Linked DNA regions of Homo sapiens. The protein of the gene in region 3 interacts with the protein of the main gene of each other region in a biochemical or structural test. Each region holds a gene or a part of one and is shown on either strand. Other genes may lie near its edges.

Region 1 (8,134 bases), on a different chromosome or scaffold from region 3:
CCATGTTGGTCAGGCTGGTCTCAAACTCCCAACCTCAAGTGATCAGTCCGCCTCAGCCTCACAAAATGCTGGGATTACAGGCGTGAGCCACCGTGCCTGGCCAAATAAAATTAATTTTAAAAGTAAGCCAAATATGTATGACAAATCAGTGCTATAGAGAAAAACAAGTGAAAGGAGATAGGGAGTATGATGGTCAAGGAACTCCTCAGTGATAAGGAGACATTTGAACAGGGATGGAAGGAAATGAGAGAACAAGTTAGGGGGATAACTATGTGAAAGGAGTTCCAAGGAGTTAAGTGCAAAGACTCTGAGGCAGAAGGGCTATTTTGTTTCGAAACTGTCTATACTATAAACACTTTAATAACATTTACAAATTTTACATTGAGTCAGTGATTATTTCACTTTGTGAAGAGATTCATTCAAATGTCAATGATCTTATTCTTTGGTTCTAAATGAACCAAAACACAGCTTCACTGGAATGAGAGACATCATAGAATAATTCGTTCTTCTATCTTCTCCAAAGCAAGAGCCTTTCAGAAATGTTACTTCCTCATTCTTAACAATATTCAAGACTTGTCTGAGATCTGTCTCCCAAATCAATGTTCTGCCACAAGAAAGTCAAAGCAAAAAATATTTAAATGGAAGAAGGGAGAGGGAGAAGTAGTGTATTAAAATGGAATGAAAGTAAATATACTAATAGAAAATTTACCTTAGGAAGAATATTTAAAAATCTAGGTGTTATAATTGAAAGAAATGTATGAAATGTAAATAGTTAAGGATTACAAAAATAAAGGCCATGTAACAAATTTTCTTTGACAGATTAGCGGTGTTCACTGTTTGACAGTATTCCAAAACAGTAGTTTAATGGTTAAGTAAAAAAGGCATTGAATACTATTTTGATCATTTGTTTATCTTCCAAAAACTAGCTTGTGAAATACCCCAGGTTTCTACTACAAGATGTTAGTGCATATACTAGACATGTAATGTCTATTTGAGGAATAAATGAATTTCAGATTTTCAGGAAGTATTATTTCCCCCATTTTTGTAGAAGCAAACCAACTCTTCAAGTACTCACTTTTAAAATTAATAATTACATGCAAGTATAATTAGTCAAAATAATACGCGATTAGAGCAAAGTCATGGTAGAAATGACCATGACTAAACTTTTAGCTTTTCTAGGCTTGTAACTGCATTACTATTTAATAAGCAAAATAATTTTCAACTTAACCCATGTCTATCACTAAGCAAATCAAAACAAAAAGTGATCCATTGCTCCTTCCATAGTTTGGTAATGGTTCAAAATGGTAATACGGTTCAACTCACTATTTTATATCCAAAAAAATCTAAGCTCCTCCCAAGGTGACTCTGAGTCTAAAAATTTGAACATGTAATCATCACTTTGTGTGGTATAATAATGATCTCATTTACATATAAAATAGATTTAACATTCTGAAATAATTTTACATTTAATTTGTGTAAACTCTGTAGGTAGTCTTCTTGAACTGTAAGTTCCGTGAGGGCAGGGATCTCTAGTGCAGCCCTTTACACTGAAAGTCCAGTTAGTAATATTTCTGCTGTTTCTGGTAAGTCAATATAAACAATGTTTTTAAATTATTTACTTACCAGCTAAAAGACGCATAAAATAGTTGAATTTCTATTTTAAAGTGTGATTTCTTTTTCAGTTAAAAAATGTACACTAAAGTTCAGTAAAGCTGGCAGATTCAGCAGCATGCTGAAGGACAGTTACTAACTGGCAGAAAAGTTACAGCAGCCCTTTTAAGAAGGATTTAAAATACTGATCATTAATACGTAAAAATGCAAAAGTTTAGAAACAAAGAATGACACTGGAGATAGTACAATAAATATTCATGCAATTAAGCTGTTTTCCAAGGAGCGGTCCCCACAAAATATGGGGGAAAAAAAAAACCTTCAGAGAATGCAATATCTGAACTGATAAGGAGCTCAGCATGTTCCAAGGCACTCAGACTTAACATTATCTCACCTGTCTGTCACAGCAACTCTGTGGCGTAATTTTATGAATGGGAAAAACTCAGGATCAAGAGGTTAAGCGACTGGCCCAAGGTCACTCAAGGAATCAATGGTGCAGCTATACCTAGAAGGGTGCACTTCACCTGATCCTTCCCACTACATAAGCCAGCTCCCCGACTGAAGCATTAGGACAGCGGAAAAGCAGGGATCAGACTCTGTGAGTGTCCCGCACTACTCCTATCCTGCCAAGGAGGCGCGGGCTTGCCTTTGAAAGCCTTCCCTAGCAACTCAGCCAGAGAGGAGGAAGTTGTGCCCGAGGCAGGCCACTGATCAGCCCAGCAAAGTGACAAGGATGACAGGCGCAGCCCCCAAAGGACCAGCCGGCATTCCCAGGAGCCCTTCCAAACCCTGCGACGGCGAGACTGGTCTCAGAAACATCTGAAAAACCTCCCAGTAAGTTTCGCCCCCTCCTGGACGTGAGGAACCAGCTGGGAATGAGCCAGAGGTCGGCCAGCCACCCGAGCCAGCCATGTGTCCAACCCGTCACGCCCGCCCCGCCTCAGCCGGCTCCTCATGCCTAGACCGCAGCCAGAGGCCCAGCTCAGGATCCGAAGCAAAGGCAGCCTTGGCTGCAGCCACCACCACCACACCACACCGAGGCGCCCCGGCGTGGAAGTCGCCGTCAGATGTCCGCCCCACCCTCCTGCTGGGACCCTCAACGACGTCGTCCGCGCCTCCGGCCAGGCCCCGGGGGCTCGGCCTGCCACTTCTGCCCACCCGCCTGCCCGCCGCCACCGCTAGCCGGGCGTCCTTACTTCATTGAGCTGGCGCTCCGCGGCCTCACGCAGGGCTGGGTCCATAGTGCCCCGCAGGGCCTCGATAATGGTGTTGGGGTCCATCGCAGCGCGGACTCGGTCAAACCCGGGGCTCGGGTGCTACTGGGCCAGGAATAGCGCCACTCACTGCGCACATGGACCCGCCGCGCTCCGCAGCGGCAACCGGCGCGAAAGGAAAGAGAAGCGCCAAGGCCCCGGATAGAACCTCTTCGCCTCGGCGTGGAGGCGGGAGATGCTCCGGCGACTTCCTGTGGGCGCGCCTGCGGAGCACTTTGGGAGATGTAGTCCACAAACACAGTCCGCAGCCCACGTGGCTGCCTGAGCTGTCGTTCCTACAGACAAGTCTTTCTGTTCAAAAACGAAAAATGTTCAAGTTCCACAAAAAGAAAAGCAAAACAATCAGTTACAAAAGGTTTCACATACTATATCCACAATGTTCATAAAGGGAGTCAGATACAGTGTGTGGTGCAATCGATTGCTAATGGCTGCGTGATTGAAGGAAACTTTCTGAAAAGCAATTTGAGATGTGTTTCTGATAGCCACTAAAATATTTAAACTGCCGGGCGCGGTGGTTCACGCCTGTAATCCCAGCACTTTGGGAGGCCAAGGCGGGCGGATCACGAGATCAGGAGATCGAGAGCATCCTGGCTAACACGGCGAAACCCCGTTTCTACTAAAAATACAAAAAATTAGCCGGGCGTGGTGGCACGCGCCTGTAGTCTCAGCTACTAGGGAGGCTGAGGCAGGAGAATCGCTTGAACCCGGGAAGCGGAGGTTGCAGTGAGCCGAGATCGTGCCATTGCACTCCAGCTTGGGCAACAAGAGCGAAACTCCGTCTCAAAAAAACAAAACGAAACGAAATGTTTAAACTCTGACCCAGTAATTCCACTTATGAGACTTTATCCTAAGGCAATAACACGGAAGATTAAATGAACTTTATGTGTGAAAGGTTTTTATCACATTACGTATTAGTAATTACCAAATACTGAAATCATGGCTTTTTATTGAGTATCCAAATTTTAGTTGGGACTTCATATAAATCACCTCTTAATGCAGAGTAAAAGCATAATCCCTATTAAAATACACCTTCCTGCCAGGCGCGGTGGCTCACACCTGTAATCCCAGCACTTTGGGAGGCCAAGGTGGGCGGATCACAAGGTCAGGAGATTGAGACCATCCTAGCTAACACGGTGAAGCCCCGTCTCTACTAAAAATACAAAAAATTAGCCGGGTGTGGTGGTGGGCGCCTGTAGTCCCAGCTACACTGAGGCAGGAGAATGGCGTGAATCCAGGAGGTGGAGCTTGCAGTGAGCCGAGATCATGCCACTGCACTCCAGCCTGGGTGACAGAGCGAGACTCTATCTCAAAAATAAATAAATAAATAAATAAAAATAAAAGACACCTTCCTAGCCAGGCGTAATCCTCCTGTTGAGGCAGGAGGATTGCTTGAGACCAGAAGTTCAAGGTGACAGCCTGTTAAGATCGTGCCTATGAGTAGCCACTACGCTACAGCCTGGGCTACATAGCGAGACCCCATCTCTAAAAAAAGAGGGAGGTGGGGGAGAAAGAAAGAAAGAAAAAGTCCTCTTTTATAACAGCCAAGAAAAAGTTTGTTTTAGAAAGGTTAAATAACTTACCCAAGGTCACGTAGTAAGAGGTTCAACTAAGATTTCAAACCTAAGATCTTTGTTTTCAAACTTTCCATTGTTTCCACTAAATCACTCTGCCTCTGAAGAGAAATGTTGAACAATATAGGACTGGTTAAGCAAATAGCAAGAATCCAGTAAATTAAATATTTCACAGCCATTAAAAAATATAACAAAAAAGTATTTATGGAAGGATATAGCTTTGTAACATGGACAAAGACTGAAAAGCAAGGTTAGCAAATGAAAATAATTTATTTTCTATTAACAGGATGGTGAGATTTGGAGTAATTTCCTTTCATATCTGTTATTATTGTAACAAAGTTATATAAACAGATATACTTAAAATTAATTATAAGCCTTCAAATACAATGTGTTAAATGATCACTTATTGTTTTTAATTTACAAAAAAAAGAGAAGGAAAGGCTCACGAAAGCCTTTCCCTGAAGCGGTGGGTTTTGCAATGTTACTACCTTGTATATGCCAGCCACTGTGCCTGGAAGTACTGGAAGTAAGACAGAATTATTCCTAATTTAGGCCGGGCATGGTGGCTCACAACCGTAACCACAGCAATTTGAGAGGCTGAGGTGGGCGGGATCACCTGAGGTCAAGAGTTCGAGACCAGCCTGGCCAACATGGCAAAACCCCATCTCTACTAAAAATACAAAAATTGCCTGGCCCGGTGGCTCACGCCTGTAATCCCAGCACTTTGGGAGGCCAAGGCGGGCGGATTACGAGGTCAGGAGATCGAGATCATCCTGGCTAACACAGTGAAACCCTCTCTCTACTAAAAATACAAAAAAGACCGGGCGCGGTGGCTCACGCCTGTAATCCCAGCACTTTGGGAGGCCGAGGCGGGCGGATCACAAGGTCAGGAGATCGAAACCATCCTGACTAACATGGTGAAACCTTGTCTCTACTGAAAATACAAAAAATTAGCCGAGCGCGGTAGCGGGCGCCTGTAGTCCCAGCTGCTCGGGAGGCTGAGGCAGGAGAATGGCGCGAACCCGAGAGGCGGAGCTTGCAGTGAGCCAAGATCGCGCCACTGCACTCCAGCCTGGCGGACAGAGCCAGACTCCGTCTCAAAAAAAATAAAAAATAAAAAATAAAATAAATAAATAAATAAAAATAAAAATACAAAAAAATTAGCCGGGCGTGGTGGCCGGTGCCTGTAGTCCCAGCTACTCGGGAGGCTGAGGCAGGAGAATGGCGTAACCCGGGGAGTGGAGCTTGCAGTGAGTCGAGATCGGGCCACTGCATTCCAGCCTGGGCGACTGAGCAAGACTCTGTCTCAAAAAAAAAAAAAAAATTAGCCAGGCATGGTGGTGCTCACCTGTAATCCCAGATACTCAGGAGGCTGAGGCAGGAGAATCACCTGGACCAGGGAGGCAGAGGTTGCAGTGAGCTGAGATCGCACCAGTGCACTCCAGCCTGGGCAACAGAGCAAGACTCCGTCTCAAAAAAAAAAAATTTACAAATGAAGAACCCGAGGCTCAGGCTACTTAAATTGTGAGGAGTCAGAAAGTTTTCATAATAATAACCTGTAAAAAGTGTAATAGTGTTACAAATACAATCTGTTTAAGAATTTTCCTCTCCCTGAATTGTTTGAACCCGGAAGGCGGAGGTTGCAGTGAGCTGAGATCGTGCCATTGCACTCCAGCCTGGGCAACAAGAGTGAAACGCCGTCTCAGAAATAAAAAGAATTTTCCTCTCCCTGCTCCACTGCTCAAAGTGAAGGCCTTGAAAACAGGCTTATGTTCTATTGACCTTTGTATCCTCACCTCCTACCACAGAGTTAGAATGTAAAGGAGGAGTTTAAAAAATTCTTTAAGTGAATAAATGAAGAAAGGAATTAATAAACTAGTAATGACTTATAGGTGGCTGAGCCAGAATTGAAGCTTCATTCTTCATGATTCAAAAGCTAGTCCTCTTTCTGATATTATATGCCTATTTTAGATTCCAGAATTGACTTGTTTATCACGGAATTGTGAAGATTTTAGCAGAGCACAATGTATATGAAAGAACCTGGCACATAGAAGGTAGTCCAAAAATGTTAGTTTCCTCTCCCTAAAACTGAAAGGGAAAAGAAGTGGTAGTGAAAAATATGGTTTTAAGCTGTAGTGCTGGGAACAGGGAGCCAACGAGGCTTGCAGATCTACAGCTGGCATGGGGCCTGTGTCTCATCCTTCATAGAGAACAGAGCACACTGGGTACAAGATCCTGTCTGGGGAGCCAGCATTCCTGTATCCAAAAAAGGAGCTTGGCCCCAGGGAGCATTCAGGAGCTAGTTGGTAGAGTGATTAGCACACTCAACCTATTTGTAGATTTTAGTTTTATTTTGTCAAGCTAGTGACACAGAGAATGTGACTTACGTGACTGGAAATTTCAGTGTGAACTCCTCTAGGGCAGAGACCACATCCATCTTTTTTGTGGTAGACACAGAAATGAATGAGTGCTCAATAAATAAGTATGAGAAGACTAATGAAAAAAGTGGTTTGTTAAGCCACTGTAAACACAATTACATAACCTTATGGTGTCCCACAATCCCAATCCCCAGCACAGCAGCCAACACAGGTATCTAAGCCTCCTTAGGCAAGGTGAAGGCTGAGAATTCAGAAAAGCATAAACCATAGTCTCAGAGTTGATTTTGAGGTAGGATGAAATTAGACAAAAATTAAGAAGAGATGCGGCCGGGCACAGTGGCTCCTCATGCCTGTAATCTCAGCACTTTGGGAGGCCGAGGCTGGCAGATCACGAGGTTGGAGAGTTAGAGACCACCCTTGCCAACATGGTGAAACCCCATCTCTACTAAAAATACAAAACTCAGCTAGACATGGTGGCGTGCACCTGTAGTCCCAGCTACTCAAGAGGATGAAGCAGAAGAATTGCTTGAACCCAGGAGGTGGAGGTTGGTTGCAGTGAGCCGAGATCACACCACTGCACTCCATCCTGGCGACAGAGTGAGATCCGTCTCAAAAAAAAAAAAAAAAAAAAAAAAGAAGAAGAAGAAGAAGAAGAGCTGGGCCTGACTCAGTGGCTCACACCTTTAATCCCAGCACTTTGGGAGGCCAAGGCAGGTGGATCACCTGAGGTCAGGAGTTCAAGACCAGCCTGGCCAACATGGTGAAACTCCATTTCTAGTAAAAATAAAAAAATTACCACAGTGTGGTGGTGCGTGCCTGTAATCCCAGCTACTTGGGAGGCTGAGGTGGGAGAATCTTTTGAACCTGGTAGGCGGAGGTTGCAGTGACCTGAGATCGCACCACTGCACGCCAGCCTGGGAGACACATTGAGACTCCATCTCAAAAAAGAAAAAAAAAGATAGTTATACCATAAGGGAATGGAAAGAATTAGTGTTCCCTTTACAGGCCCCCATTGGGGCTTTTGTGGGTAAATGCCAATGACGAGACCCTTGATGATAATTGACACGGAAAAAGTTCCCTCGTCCCCCTCTCAGAGTCTGAGATGGCGGTGTGGCTCCCTTCTTCAGTGCCTCACTGCTCAAACCTCTCAGGGAACATACAGACGGGTAAGGCTGTGGGGCTCTGAACCCACAGCAGTGTCTACTGGTGAATGTTTACAGTTCCTAAAGCCCCAGTGGGTGTGTGTTATAGGATGCTCTTTTAGTTTTGCTGTCTATAGGTGGCTTGTGTTAACCAGCTCAAT
Region 2 (7,558 bases), on a different chromosome or scaffold from region 3:
GCTGCCTCATTTTGGGTTTCAGTGTGAACTCTAAGGTCTCTTGTAACCCTTTGAGAGAGGTACTTGGTGGACTATCATGCTGTGAGAAGGGTACAAGGTTTTTGGTGTTGGAATAGAGGAACTGGTGCTTAGAGGTGGGAAGCAGAAAAGGCACAGGGAGAGACAGGATGGCTATAGGCTGGGACAGCACCTCTTTTCCAAGAGTCCTGCTTTGGAATGGATAGGGGAGGGGCTGCTGGGGGGCCCTGGTTCCAGGAAGGCTGCTTCCTGGGAAGACAGGAACAGCCCTTGGCAGTGGCCAAGCTATTGCTGTTTATGGTTTGGAGGCTCATGTAACCTGCCACTGTAGCGTGCCTCAGGTTCTAATTGCTGCTGGAAGTGGGCCTGGTGGGAGCTGGGAATGATCTGAGGCCTCTGAGCTTAACCAGGCCTGCCAGGGCCTTCAGCTGTGTGGCTGAGATGAGAAAATCAGCATTGAGGAGAACACTGGAGCCAAGGCATTTCTTTGAATGTTTACTAAGCAGTCAGAAGGTGACTTACTCCATTCCCCAGTTCCAGCCCCTGAGCATAGAGGGTTTAGGGTTAGGAGGAGTACCACAGACTGAAGAGGAAGTAGAGTTAAGGGCTTGGCAAGTTGCCCACTCCTATCCCTGGTCTAGCTGCCTCAGAACTAAAGGAGGCCTGGAACTAACAAGTCACTCCCTTCCAGATTAGATGAGGCCAGCTGGCCTTTGGATGCCCCAGGAAGAGGTGGTGGCAGCAGTGGCATGAGGGATCCCTCTGTAACTCCACATGCCAGGTCATCTGCACTGGATTAGATGTCCATTTCAAATTGTGCGTCATCTGGAGAGAGAAAAGGCAGGAAGACAGGTTGCTGGTCTGAGGATCTGCAGGCTCAGCATCAGTGCAGAAACCCCTCTTGGAACTGAACCCCCGCACTGTGTCACAGTGGCATTTGAACTCAAAGGCTGGGACAATTCTTAATTCCTGCTTTCCTTACCGGGTATCTCTTCCTCTGTCTCCTGCTCCTTCAGCTCCTCCAGCTTGGAGAGAGGGGCTGTTGGAGGAGTTGTGACCCCGGGAATCTGAGGGAGGCAGCAGGGGGGTGTCCGGGCAATGGGTGAGTTCTTGCACTCCAGCAGGAACTTTCGGTCGTAGATGATCCTGGTGCCTGTCAAGGGGTTGGGACTGAGGTAAGAGTCAGGAGCTTGGGTACCGAGGTGACTGGGGTCCCAGACTCAGGCCTTTTGGGGCCTGGAGGTGAGGGTGGTGTCAAATTTCCCTGTGTATCAAAGGACATCGGCTCTGAAGCCCAGCTAGGTTCTCAGCAGACAAGCCTTCATAGTGCTTAAAATCTTCCAGACCTAACCAAGATGTGGGTATAAAGCAAGGGGGGCATCCCAGCTGGTATAGGCAGGGGCTTTATGTTTGGGAGAGCTTCAGATCTTGGCTCTAAGAGGAACACCAAACTTTGAGTTCAGGTACTTCATGCTGCTCCTCTACCACTCTGAAACCTCTGCTTTGGTCTCACCAGTGAAGGTGAGACCTAGACTAACAGCCTCAGGTGGTTCAAGAAGTGAAATAGCAGTTGTGAAGGGTTCCACCCAGTGCTGTTACCTGGGCTATCTCCTGCAGGGAGGAGAAACGTACTGTTCTAATCCTGACCCCTCCCAGGTCCTATAAGGTTCACACTAGCTCAGAGGAACTTGGCCCGCATAATGTCCTCAAAGGGTCCTGCCCTGTTCCTCCCCTCCGCTTCCGCGTGGCAGGAATCCCTGGGTCGGGAGCCCAGCAGCTCGTGATCCCAGGCTGCTCGCCCAACCAAACAGACGCCAGCCAGCAGCACAAAAACGGAGCAACTGCCCCAACTGTTCTAACTACTCCACTTCTCAAGACCCGGTGCTTCCGGCTGAGGTCACGCTCAGTAGGGGGCCCTGGCCCCTATTCCTAGGAAGCAAAGTCGCGAGGGGTAAGGAGCGTGTGTAAGGCTCCAAGAACCCAGGCCACAGTGAAGGATTACAGCCCAAACACCCGGAAGCTAGGCTCATGGCCTTGTTGCATCACTTAGAAGTTTTTGGGAACTGAGCTTCCGCTCCAAACATTCTCCCCCAAAGCTACAACCTGTAGAGGGGCCTGCGGACAAGTCTTAGGTCTGTCCCTCCCCTACCCCCGCCCCGCAACAACACGCACGCGCTAATATGTCCGCAGCCTGCGGACCCCTGCCCGGCCCGCTGACCTCCGGGGGTAGTGGCGTATAGCGTGCCCCCCGGCGTGGTGCTGTAGCAGTCGGGCAGCTGGTCCCGGCCCCCGGGAATCGGGCAGCTAGTGGACGTTGACATAGCGAGCGGGAGGAGCAGCAAAGTAACCGCCTGGCGTTGAGGTCGAGGAGCGCAGCTCTGAGTCTGAGGCGGACTCAGCCGACCACGTGCAGCTGCTGGCAACAACACTAGAACAACGTCACGCCCAGGGCGGGCCACCGGCCGTCACTCAACCCGACGGTCCCGCCCTATCTGCTAGGAAGCCAGCCCGGTTCAGAGAAAGCTGGAAATGCGTCCAAAGTCCCAGGCCCCACACCAGCTTCCAGTTCCTGCTGGCCCAGCGCTGGCCAACCTGCCTGAGTGCTGCAGCAGCTCAGCTATTTACTGTTTATAGCCGGGAGCTGGGGGCAGGTGAAGTAGGGCAAGCGTTTTTATCCTGTATTAGTTCACCCATTCCTTGCCAACTTTTGGATAGTAAAGCACTATGATTAGCCAAAGTCACACATCTTGCAGGAAGGGAAGCTGGGATTCAAATCTGACTGCATCTGATTCCAGGACTGTGCCCTTAAGCCCAGCTGTGTACTGCCTCCCATAAACAGTAACAGTACAAGGCCGGGTGCGGTGGCTCACGGCCTGTAATCCCAGCACTTTGGGAGGCTAAGGCGGGTGGATAGCTTGAGCCCAGGAGTCTGAGACCAGCCTGGGCAACATGGTGAAACCTAGACTCTACTAAAAATACAAAAATTAGCCGGGTGCGGCAGCATGCGCCTGTAGACCCAGCTACTCGGGAAGCTGAGGTGGAAGGATAGGTTGAACCCAGGAGGCGGAGGTTGCAGTGAGCGGAGATTGCACCACTGCACTCCAGCCTGGGTGACACATGCCTTGATGGCCTGGAGCACAGCAGGAAGGGGAAGGTCAGTGAGGGCTGGTCATCTTTCTGAAGAAGTGGTACCTGGACTAATAAAAGGATGAGTCAAGTTTGGGGGCTACAGCTGAGGCATCACCAGTCAGAAGGCCTGCCCTTTGATCTCTTTGCCAGTTAACTAAGGAGGGGCAGGGGGCTAGTGAGGAGGGCTTGGTCTTTAGAAGGAAAGAAAGGTCAGAGAGTTTGGCCTTGGAGTTTTTTTTTTGTTTTTTTTTTTTATGTAGACACAGTGATATGACAGGCTGGAGCAAGGTGGTGGGATTGGTGAAGATGTATATATGCTGGAAATCTTGAATTCATCAGGCTGTCCTGTTTGGCTTCCTCAAAATCAATACTGCCTCCACTGTCCCTTCCCCTCACCAAAAATTAAGTATAGACCACCTGACTGCATCCATTTATCAATATTAACTCAGCTCTGGCTTCATCAGATTTCTCCTTAGGTCTGATTTCTTCACTCATTTAAAAAAAGATTGCTTCTCAAACTATTTATTTTCTGAGATAGGGTTTTGCTCTGCTGCCTAGGCTGGAATGCAGTGGTGTAATCTCAGCTCAATGCAAACTCTGCCTCCTGGGTTCAGGCCATCCTCCCACCTCAGCCTCCTGAGTAGCTGGGACCACAGGTGCCCACCACCACACCGGGCTAATTTTTGGATTTTTTATAGAGACAAGGTTTCACCATGTTGCCCAGGCTGGTCTCGAATTCCTGAGCTCAAGTAACCTATCTGCCTCGGCCTCCCAAAGTGCTGGTGTGAGCCACCACACCTGGCCAGCTTCTCAAACTTTAATGTGCATATAAATCATCTGGAGATATTGTTAAAATGATAATTCTGATACAGTATTGGTCTGGGTGAGATTTTGGATTTTTTTTTTTTTTTGACACAGGGTCTCACTGTCACCCAAGCTGGAGTGTAGTGGTACAATCATGGCTCACTGCAGCCTCAACCTCCTGGGCTCAGGTGACCCTCCCACTTCAGTGTCCTCAATAGCTGGGACCACAGGTGCATGCCACTGTACCTGGCTAATTTTTAAATTTTTTGTAAAGGCGGGGTCTCACTATGTTGCCCAGGCTGGTCTCAAACTTGTGGGCCCAAGCGATCCTCCCAAACAGGCATCCTCCGAAACAAGAATTACAGGCATGAGCCACCGTGCCCAGCCAGTTGTGGATTTTTTTTTTTTTTTTTTGAGATGGAGTTTCGCTCTTGCCGCCCAAATGGCATGATCTTGGCTCACCGCAACCTCCGATTCCCGGGTTTAAGCGATTCTCCTGCCTCAGCCTCCTGAGTAGTTGGGATTACAGGCATGTACCACCACACCCAGCTAATTTTGTAATTTTAGTAGAAACAGAGTTTCTCCATGTTGGTCAGGCTGGTCTTGAACTCCCGACCTCAGGTGATCAGCCTGCCTCGGCCTCCCAAAGTGCTACGATTACAGGCATAAGCCACCACACCTGGCTGGTTTTTTTTTTTTTTTAAGATGGAGTCTTGCTCTGTCACCCAGGCTAGAGTTCAGTGGCATGATCTCAGCTCACTGCAACCTCTGCCTCCTGGGTTCAAGCGATTCTCCTGCCTCAGCCTCCTGAGTAGCTGGAATTACAGGAACCCACCACCGCACCGGGCTAATTTTTTGTATTTTTAGCAGACATCAGGTTTCACTATCTTGGCCAAGCTGGTCTCGAACTCCTGATCTCCAGTGATCTGCCTGGCTTGGCCTCCCAAAGTGCTGGAGTTACAGGCATGAGCCACCGGGCCTGACTGCAACTGTGAGTTTTTAATACAGTAATGCAAACGCTTCAGGGCCTCAGAAACACACTTCAGGTATCAAGGGTATGTATATTTTATTGTCCCGAAAAGGATTTTGAGTATCTTACAAAATGGTGCATGCCAAAATGAAGTGTCTTAGCAGTGCTGGAGGGTAAAGCTTGGGAACAGATTGTAGTGAATCATTTATGATAACTAACCTTTTATGCAACGTGAGGAAGTGTCTGACAGGGGGAATGGGAGAATAGGGTGGAGGATGGTGAGATTTGAGGGTAGAGTCCAGTCTAGTGAAACCAGGTGGGCAAACGGGCGATGGCTGTGAGGATGGAGAGAAGTGGATGAGATTCAGATACACAGAGGAAGAATAAAGTGACTGATTAAGAGTGGGGTGAGGGAAAGTGTAAACTAGGATAATTTTCAGTCTTTTGGCTTGAGAGTCTTGGTGGCTAGTAGCACCAACTAATATGATAGGGAAAACAAGAAGAGCAGCATATCTTATATGAGGGAATGAATAATATGTGTTCAGATGGAGCACAGGAGGAAGCTAGATATAGTGAAGCCATGGGGAGAACTCTGAGTTAGTGGCTCAAATTTGGGTGGTGTGAAATTCAAGAGTGTGGGGATGGGCTAGGATCGGTAGCTCACATCTGTTAATTCTGGCATTTTGGGAGGCTGAGGTGGGAGGACCGCTTGAGCCCAGGAGCTCAAGACCTGGGCAATACAGCAAGACCCTATCTCTATTTATAAATAAATAAATGTGGGATGAGATCATCTGGGGAGAAGATACAGTGTAGAAGCCTGGGCACATCAACATTTATTTATTTAAAAGATAGTAGAGAAAAAGAATTCACCAAAAGAGACTGAGAAAGATGAGTCGGAAATAGGAAAATCAGGAGAAAAGTATCAAAAGTTTTCAAGAACGGTCATTGTCGAAGTGAGGTCTTCCTTCTACTAATCTCTACCACAAAATAATAGCCACAGTTACTACTACTATAATGACTACTGCTTGCAGCTAACTCTTCTGGAGTCACTGTGTGCTGTAAGGGCTGGGGAATAGGTAATTGGCTTTAGAGAGAAAGCCAGATTCATCATCCATGCAATCTGGATGAAGAAACAAGAATTTAAATCAGAGGGTCAATACTAATTACTGGCTGGGCAAGGCGGTTCACGCCTGTAATCCCAGCACTCTGGGAGGCTGAGGCGGGCAAATCACTTGAGGTCAGGAGTTCAAGACCAGCCTGGCAAACATGGAGAAACCCCATCTCTACTAAAAATACAAAAATTAGCCAAGTGTGGTGGTGTGCACCTGTAATCCCAGCTACTTGGGAGGCTGAGGCAGGAGAATTGCTTGAACTCAGGAGGCGGAGGTTGCAGTGAGCCAACATGGCGCCACTGCACTCCAGCCTAAGCAACAGAGTGAGACTCTGTCTCATTAAAAAACAAAAAACAAAAAACAACTAATTACCTATTAGAATATGGAAGTGTTTAAAAAAAATACCTATGCCCAGGCCCCACCCCCAGAGATCTGATTAAGCCTATAAGGAAATACCAGGTCTCTGTTATCAGGCAAATTACTTTGGATTCACATTAATATACCATCAAGATAAAACAGAATGTGAAAAGTAATCACAAAATAGGTTTGCAAACAAGATCGTCTGATTCATGATCTTTTCCAAATTAGGTGTTGAAGCCCAGGGTCATGCCTTTTATTGGAGGTGGTCTTAACACACTTAAGTTTTTGATGCTTAAAACCACCTTTCTCTCACCCATTGCCTAAAGGAGAGGATGGAGGCGCATGAACCTGCCTGTTTGCAAATGACAAATCACTGAGGATAAATAGAAAATGCAGCATTACCAGAGCCCCTCACTATAGGGGGCAGGGTCCACTGGGAAGACATCATAACCAGTTGTATGTCTTGGTAGAAATACTTCTTGCTAGTCAGAGAACAAGATGTTCATTCAGAAGCTGTTTTCCTACAAGCTTGCTTGCCTTTTCTTGGATTTACAATGTGGTCCAAAGGTCTTTTTTTTTTTTTTTTTTGAGACGAAGTCTCGTTCTTGTCACCCAGGCTGGAGTGCAATGGCATGATCTCAGCTCACTGCAACCTCCGCCTCCTGGGTTCAGGCGATTCTCCTGCCTCAGCCTTCTGAGTAGCTGGGATTACAGGTGCATGCCACCACGCCCGGCTAATTTTTGTATTTTTAGTAGAGACGGGGTTTCACCATGTTGCCCAGACTGGTCTCGAACTCCTGACCTCAGGTGATCCACCCGCTTCAGCCTCCCAAAGTGCTGGGATTACAGGCATGAGCCACCGCACCCGGCCCCAAAGGTCTTAAACAGTGGGAAGGAACCACATATACTAAGTACTCCTCTCTCTGGCTTGAAATTATAATGTAGCCAGCCTTTCCCTTTCTTTTCTTTTCTTTTCTTTTTTTTTTTTTTGAGAGAGAGTCTTGCTCTGTTGCCCAGGCTGGAGTGCAGTAGCGTGATCTTGGCTCACTGCAGCTTCCACCTCCTGGGTTCTAGCGATTCTCCTGCCTCAGCCTGCTGAGTAGCTGGGATTACAGGCACATGCCACCACACCTGGCTAACTTTTGTATTTTTAGTAGAGATGGGG
Region 3 (7,760 bases):
ACCCTGTCTCTAAACAAACAAACAAAAACTCTTTGCACCCTATAATTGTAAAAGCATAAAATGTTGGCACACGGATATATTAGAATAGCAGAAGAGGTTTCCCTTAAAAAATTTTTTTCTTTTTCTTTTTCTTGATTTTCTTTTAAAAATCAAGGTGCCTTTTTAGCCAGTAGGTAGTGCCTCAGTCTCATAAAAATCACCAAGGAGAGAGTAAACAAAAAACTAACTAGAATAATAAAATAATTTTTTAAATTCCAATTCTGCTCCAATCTTTTAATATTCAAAATTCCTTGGTCATGTTTGCGTACATCCCATGTTTTTAAGCAATGTCCTGAGTAGGTAATGGGAATTGGTGTCTCTCAAACTGTAAAATTAAAATAAGGGTTCACAGTGGCTCAGGCCTGTAATCCCAGCACTTTGGCAGGCCGAGGCGGGCAGATCACGAAGTCAGGAGTTCGAGACCAGGCTGGCCATCTCTACTAAAAATACAAAAGTTAGCCAGGTGTGGTGGCACGCACCTGTAGTCCCAGCTATTTGGGAGGCTGAGGCAGGAGGATCGCTTGAACCCAGGAAGCAGAGGTTGCAGTGAGCCAAGATCTGGGCAACAGAGTGAGACTGCATCTCGGGAAAAAAAAATTACATTTGAGTTTTCCCCAAATATTTGATAGCAATCTATCTACAAATCATCAATGAGCTAATATTTTAGTAGTAGGGTCAATCAACAACTAATTAAATAATGTTTAACAGCAAGTTTAGAGTTAGGGTTATGAAGTGGCCTAAAGAAAACCAAAGCAGAGTGAGGGGATAAAGAGTAATGGAAACAGTAATTTAGATAGGGTGGTCAAGGAAGCCTTCCTTCAGGAGATCACATTGGAACAGAGGCCTGGATGAAATGAGGGAAGGAAGTATATGATTCGCTCATTCATTATGTGAATGTGTGCTGGTTATGGTGCTTGTTAACTGCATCCTCTTGGTTCTTAGTCACACCTCTTTATATGGGTACTGAACTATTTATATTTCTATGACTTAGTACGCCAACCAGATTTTACAGTCGGGGAAGGAAGTGCCTGTACTTCCTGTGTCCTTTAAATATCCTCCACTGGTTACATAGTTCCCATTACTAACTTAGTACTTGTTGGATGGTTTCTGGTCAGTTCTGTAAATGAACTTGGAATTACAAGTCCTTTGAAGAGCAATAAAGAATAATAGAGAATAAATAGAGAAATAAAACATAAAATTTCAGCTCTATATATTTAGGATTGGCAAAAACAAAACAAAACAACCACATACACACATACATAAAAACCTAATCGTTAAATCTTTGAAATGGTAGAATCTCAAATAGGCAAAGACACATTAATGGTCATAAAACACACACAACAAAGTATATACAAAAATGGAGATTTTCCTGAAACTCTGTGCTTGAAAATTATAAAGAAAAATTGTTGAAAACTATGTAAAAAATGGAAAGAAACTAAACCATAAAGAATAGAGCATCCATAAGTATTGTAAAAGTATGAGTCTTGGTTGACAAGAGGGAGTTTTTTTTTTTTTTTTTTTTTTGAGACTGAGGGAGTGCAGTGGCGCGATGTCCGCTCACTGCAAGCTCCACCTCCTGGGTTCACTCCTTTCTCCTGCCTCAGCCTGCCGCGTAGCTGGGACTACAGGCGCCTGCCACCATGCCCAGCTAATTTTTGTATTTTTAGTAGAGACGGGGTTTCACCGTGTTAGCCAGGATGGTCTCGATCTCCTGACCTCGTGATCCGCCCGTCTTGGCCTCCCAAAGTGCTGGGATTACAGGCATGAGCCACCGTGCCCGGCCCGAGTTTTTTGATTAACAGAAAATTTAATAAAAATGGAAACTGTTGTTTAAAAAAAGTTTTAAGAACATCACTGGCTTTCAGTCCTATAGGTATTTTCTTGCCAATCTCATTGATTTTTTGCTGTTATATAACAGCTTCATGAAAATAGGACATCTGGCCAGGAATGGTGGCTCATGCCTGCAATCTCAGCACTTTGGGAGGCCCAGGTAGGGGGACCGCTTGAGCCCAGGAGTTTGAGACCAGCCTGGGGAACATAGCTAGACGCTCCTGTCTCTGCAAAATATAAAAAAATTAGCTAGGCATGGTGGCCCATGCCTGTAGTCCTAGCTACTTGGGAAGCTAAGGTGGGAGGACCCCTTGAACCCAGAAGGTCAAGGCTGCAGTGAGCCATAATCATGCCACTGCACTCCAGCCTGGGTAACAGAGCAACACCCTGAAAAGACAAAAAGAAAGGAAGGAAGGAAGGAAGGAAGGAAGGAAGGAAGGAAGAGAGAGAGAGAGAGAGAATGGGAGGGGAGGGGAGGGAGGGGAGGGGAGGACAGGGGAGGGGAGGGGAAGAGAAGGGAAGGGAAGGGAGGGGAAGGGTAGGGAAGGGAGAGGAAGGGTGGGGAAGGGTGGGGAAGGGGAAAATAGGACATCTATGCTGTCTTTTTCTCTTCAAAGAAGGTAACCTGACACCACTTCTAACCAGCAGAAAATAACAACGCGGTCAACAGAATTATTTTGGATAGTCTAAGTAACAGTAGATAGTCTCTGTAAGTAGAAATCCACTTATCCGTTTATTATCATTTTTTTTTTTTTTTTGGAAATGGAGTCTCACTGTGTCGCCCAGACTGGAGTGCAGTGGCGGGATCTTGGCTCACTGCAACCTCCACCTCCCAGGTTCAAGTGATTCTCCTGCCTCAGCCTCCTGAGTAGCTGAGACTACAGGCAGGTGCCACTATGCCTGGCTAATTTTTGTATTTTTAGTAGAGACAGGGTTTCACCATGTTGGTCAGGCTGGTCTCGAACTCCTGACCTCAGGTGATCCGCCCGCCTTGGCCTCCCAAAGGGCTGTGATTACAGGCGTGGGCCACTGCGCCTGGCCTGTTAATTCTATCTACTTTAAAACCTAGTAGAGCTAAGCCCACTAGACAAAAGCTTTCATTAATCACTTCTGATATTCAGGTAAACCAAAACATATGAACAGGCAATGGCTTTGAGTTCTCATACAGCCTCAATTATGTGTTAGTCAACTCAAGCATCCATTATGTACTCAATAATAGGTATGACACAGCTCTGGACCTCATTAACACTATAAGCAGACAGGCACAGGCAGCCTGCATACACTCCTTTTCCTGGTGTCAACATTATTTAAAAGCATGGGAAATAGTAATGAGACAGTGTCTTCTTCATTAGAACCTTAGGAGTCTACTAGATTTCTTCATCTCTATTTGTTGTTATTAGTAGCCAAACTGTGCAAAAAACACGGTCTTGAGAAATGACAGCACAGTATCTTAGAGGGAAAGGAAATGTAGGATGCCAGTGTGGGGACAAATTTCTGATTGCCAGTGATTGTTGTGAGCATAACAATAATTTCATGAACATTAAAGCCTCTATTGAGGGCAGCTGCAGTTGTAAAGGAAAAAAAATGGTCCTGAACATTTAAAACTACACTGGTGTACATCATAATCAAACAAAGTAAACAGAAAAAAATTTAAACTTTGCTAAAAAAAAAAAGCAGAAGCACTTGATCTTTAGGAAGGCACGCAGTTGCTTATTATGAATCATTTCTAGAGTCCGATGCATTTTCAAAGCCGGTTACAGTCATTACGAAGCACACCCTTGTGAGGTAAGTGTATCATCACCTTTGGTTCATAAATAAAAAAGCTGAGACGCCGAGCGATTAAGTCACTCGCCTAAGGAGAATGAGTCAACGTCAAGAGTCATAGTTGACCCGGCCTAAAGACTCCAGACCATCAGTCCAGGGCTTAGTCAGCGGGGCCCGGAGTGGCTTCCCTGGCTGGCATCTGGACTTAGGCTATTTCCGTGCACGTAAAAGCGGAATATTGGAACGGTTGCACAGAACTTCCAAATAATTTTTACCGCCACGCAAGATTTAGCCCTGAGGTCTTAATCTCAGGATTTGGGACAGTAAAAGCTGTCGTCCCTCCCCCTCGTCCAGCCGGTGGCAAGCGGGTACTGCGGGCGGTTCCGTCCGTCCCCTTTCGCAGAAATGGCAACGAATGACCACCAGCATTAGCTGAGCCAGGGGACGTGGGAGGGTTGATTGCCTAAACGACTCTGCATCGCCGCCTCTTTTTGAAACTAAGAGAAAATGGTGGGAGATCAAAAGAAAACTAAATAAACACACAGGCAACTTGTCCTGGGACCTCAACTAAGCAAATGAAGCCTTATTGTGTGTGCTGAGCCTGCAGTTCCCAACCTTCCGGGGAAGATGGGAGGACAGGGCGACAAAGGGCACAGTAGGCTTGCCTGGCAGTAAGTGTGACCGCAGCTATCCAGGCGGAAGAGCAGAGGACTGAAACCACCCTCCAGCAAGCGAGTGTCCGCCGCGTTGAGAACCGCGCACCCTACCCATCGGCCACGTGACCAGTCCTTTTTAAAAAAAATTTCTTTACCTTAAAAAAAAAAAAAAAAAAAAGGTGGGGGAGAGACTCCACTTCCCAGAAGCCTCTCGTTACTCACGCAGCCGCAGTCTTGCGCAGGTGCCGCCAGGGCCAAACGGACATATCCGTCACGTGGCCAGAAGCTGGCCAATCCGGTTTGAATCTCATTTTTTTCCTCTTACCCCCCCTTCTGGAGCGGTTGTGCGATCAGATCGATCTAAGATGGCGACTGTCGAACCGGTGAGTATTGCCTTTGGCCCCCACCCCCACGGGTCCCCGCGCTCCGTCTTCCTTCTGACTGGGGGACTCCGCGGGACGGCGTTCCCGGCGCGCACTGTACCCCTTGCCGCCCCTTCCCCTTCATGTTGGACCTGACCTCCCGCGGACAAGTGGGGACGTCCCGGAGGATGGCCGAGGCGGCGTGTAGCGCACACTTTCTGGTGGGGGCCCGAGAACTGGGGGAGCGGTGTGGGGGAGGGGCGGCGTGGCGCCTCCTGCGGAACCGCGAGGTGTCTACAGGGTGGAGGGTAGCTGGGGTTCTGGGCTGGGTATGCGAGGATGGTGTCTTCATGATAGGAAGGCGCAGGGCCGGCTCCCAGCGAGTACTGGGATCCGCAGGCAGGGTGGGCGGCGAGCCGGCCTGGAGTGAGATGGAGGAGGGAGCCCTGGAGCAGCCTTTCCCTCCCTGCAGAACCCCAGCTCCGGGGCTCGGGTGCGGGGCGCGCGCACGTCTTCCTTAGACCGGTGGACTGGGGAGCTGGTGGGCGAGTGTTGCCGGAGGGTGGGTTAGGCGGGAGTGGTGCCGCGGCACGCGCGGAGGAGCTTCGACCTCGCTTAGGGGAGTTGAGAGGGGCGAGCGTCTGTTAATCCAGCGCGCCGGAGAGTTGCCGGTGTTTGCGCCAGGGGAAGCGAGAAAGGTCTGGGGTGGGAAGGAACACTCGTGTGTCACGGTGAAGCTCTCCAAGTAGAATGAGGGATGGTGGTGGTGAGAAGGGGTATCACATTGTCCTCGCCCCTCCATGCTTGGGACTGGGCTGTCATGGAGGAGGGAAGGGGGAGGAGCGAGGCCTACAGATCGCTGTAGCCGGTCGGCTTGCCGGCCGGACCTGCTGCATTTCACACGCGCCCGTCTTCCATTCATTCATCCTTTCCGCGTAGTGCGCACGCCTCAGAGAATGCGAATGGGTCTCAATCCCTCTGTTCTTCCGAGTCTTTATCTCCTGGAAGATTTCTGAGACGCAGTTTATTGGAAATAGAAACTTTTAAATTTACTTTTCCATTTGACTTTTTTTTTCTCTTTATCTATGCTACAGACTTTCATTTCAATTTAGGCACCATTTTAAACTTAACTGAAGCAAGCTGGTCCCAGGGTAGGTTTGTAGTTAATCTTTAAGCAGAGGGTATATTTTTCATAATTTGGGTTTGCCAGGACTGGCTCACTGAAACTTCTGGGCCCTGTTGCCTTTTTAGAAACGACACAGCTAAGTGAAGATATCTTGTGTGCATAATGGGGTTTATTAGCAATCAGAAAACCTTTCACACTCTGGAACCAGCTCTAGACCTTGGTTGCCAGATACTTTTGTGTATCTTTTCATGGTAGCTTGTGGTTTTGCTAATGGTTTACCAGTTTGCTTTGACTTTTAAAGACTTTTTTTTTTTTTTTTTTTTTTTTTTTTTTTTGAGATGGAGTCTTGCTTTGTCGCCCAGGCTGGAGTGCAGTGGCGTGATCTCGGCTCACTGCAACCTCCGCCTCCGGGTTCAAGCGATTCTCCTGCTTCAGCCTCTTGAGTAGCTGGGATTACAGGTGCGCACAACCGTGCCTGGCTAATTTTTGTATTTTTAGTAGAGACGGGGTTCCACCATGTTGGCCAGGCTGGTCTGAAACTCCTGACCTCAAGTGATCCTCCCGCCTCAGCCTCCCAAAGTGCTGGGATTACAGGCGTGAGCCACAGCACCCGGCACTTTTAAAGACTTTTATAAAACTATTTCAAAAACTCTTATAGACTACACAAAGGCTTATTTTTCATTGCGTTGGTGTAAACTATCCTTACCTTGTCAAAATTCAAGGCAGCTTCTCTGCTTGCTTACTTGTTTTTTTATTGGCACCAGTTTTCATTTATGTTCCTGGGAATTAAATTGACTGAAAAACTCATAAGTTGTTGCTACAGTTAACTGACTTTAGGACATTAATATTACATAACACTAATGAAGAATAAGTATGTAAAATATACATTTTAAACCCCTTGACAGGTTCTGATGTCCACTTTTGTCTAGATCTGTTCCTACCCCACTACACTAGTGTCAGTAAAAAGCATTACATCTGGTAATAGGGGCAAGGCTACGAGACTGTAAACTATAAAACAATAAGGAGTTCTGTGAGGTTTCTGTCACATTTAGGTCCCTTGAGTTTTGCAGAGTTTATGCAGTTTTGTTTCAGCAGCACAGAGCGGAACTGCAAAGTGATGAAGGACTATATTTTGAGTTAGTAAATATTAATAGCTCCTGATATATCCAGGGTGTTGTACCAAGTGTTCTTTAGGATACAAAGTTATACAAGATGTGAGTCTTGTTGAATGTAAACCCTTAAGGAACTTAATTCCTAGGGATGTGGTTAGTGATACAGTATTTGTTCTGGTACAGACTTTGGGAGATTTGGATGTTATGTTTAAATTTGGGGAGTAGGGGAACCTAAAAACAAAGTGTGTGAAGCTGGAAACTAAAGTATTTTGAGAATATATGTAAAATAGTATCGAAGTGTTTAGTTTTAGTGAGAAATGAATTTTTTTTTTTTCGATACTGACTTTCACTCTTGTTGCCCAGGCTGGAGTGCAATGGCGCGATCTTGGCTCACCGCAACCTCCGCCTCCTGGGTTCAATCGATTCTCCTGCCTCAGCCTTCCGAGTAGCTGGGATTACAGGCATGTGCCACCACGCCCGGCTAATTTTGTACTTTTAGTAGAGATGGGGTTTCTCCATGTTGGTCAGGCTGGTCTTCAACTCCCGACCTCAGGTGATCCGCCCGTCTTGGCCTCCCAAAGTGGTGGGATTACAGGCATGAGCCACCGCGCCTGGCCTGAAAATTTTTAGTACTTTTAATATACCCTTGTGCACAGGCTAGTTATGTGGAATTATTTTTGACAGTTTTAAATAGTTGGATTTTGTGTGTAGGGGTGCAGGATCTTGCTCTGTTGCTGGGGCTGGAGTGCAGTGGCGCGATCATAGCTCACTGCAGCCTCAAACTCCTGGGCTCAAGAGATGCTTCCATCTCAGCCTCTGGTGTAGCAAGCACTACAGGAGCAGGCCACCACGCCCGGATAATTTTTAAACT

Evidence for each region. The genes of interacting proteins can lie anywhere in the genome.
Region 1: the proteins of EIF4E (region 3) and IPO7 form a complex in vitro, tested with the Homo sapiens proteins (one study listed by IntAct).
Region 2: the proteins of EIF4E (region 3) and EIF4EBP3 form a complex in vitro, tested with the Homo sapiens proteins (2 studies listed by IntAct, with this or other methods).

Annotation. Positions count from the first base shown.
Region 1 is NC_000011.10:9,379,518-9,387,651, reverse strand, and holds the start of IPO7 (importin-7), read right to left. Parts: upstream 3,001-8,134; 5' UTR 2,889-3,000; coding exon 2,805-2,888; intron 1-2,804. UniProt on the Homo sapiens protein: Functions in nuclear protein import, either by acting as autonomous nuclear transport receptor or as an adapter-like protein in association with the importin-beta subunit KPNB1.
Region 2 is NC_000005.10:140,542,519-140,550,076, reverse strand, and holds EIF4EBP3 (eukaryotic translation initiation factor 4E-binding protein 3), read right to left. Parts: upstream 2,416-7,558; 5' UTR 2,340-2,415; coding exon 2,237-2,339; intron 1,172-2,236; coding exon 1,001-1,171; intron 844-1,000; coding exon 815-843; 3' UTR 501-814; downstream 1-500. Other genes in the region: ANKHD1-EIF4EBP3 protein, read right to left, coding at 840-843, 1,001-1,171. UniProt on the Homo sapiens protein: Repressor of translation initiation that regulates EIF4E activity by preventing its assembly into the eIF4F complex: the hypophosphorylated form competes with EIF4G1/EIF4G3 and strongly binds to EIF4E, leading to repression of translation.
Region 3 is NC_000004.12:98,926,007-98,933,766, reverse strand, and holds the start of EIF4E (eukaryotic translation initiation factor 4E), read left to right. Parts: upstream 1-4,633; 5' UTR 4,634-4,654; coding exon 4,655-4,672; exon of another isoform or gene 4,673-4,794; coding exon of another isoform or gene 4,795-4,872; intron 4,873-7,760. UniProt on the Homo sapiens protein: Acts in the cytoplasm to initiate and regulate protein synthesis and is required in the nucleus for export of a subset of mRNAs from the nucleus to the cytoplasm which promotes processes such as RNA capping, processing and splicing.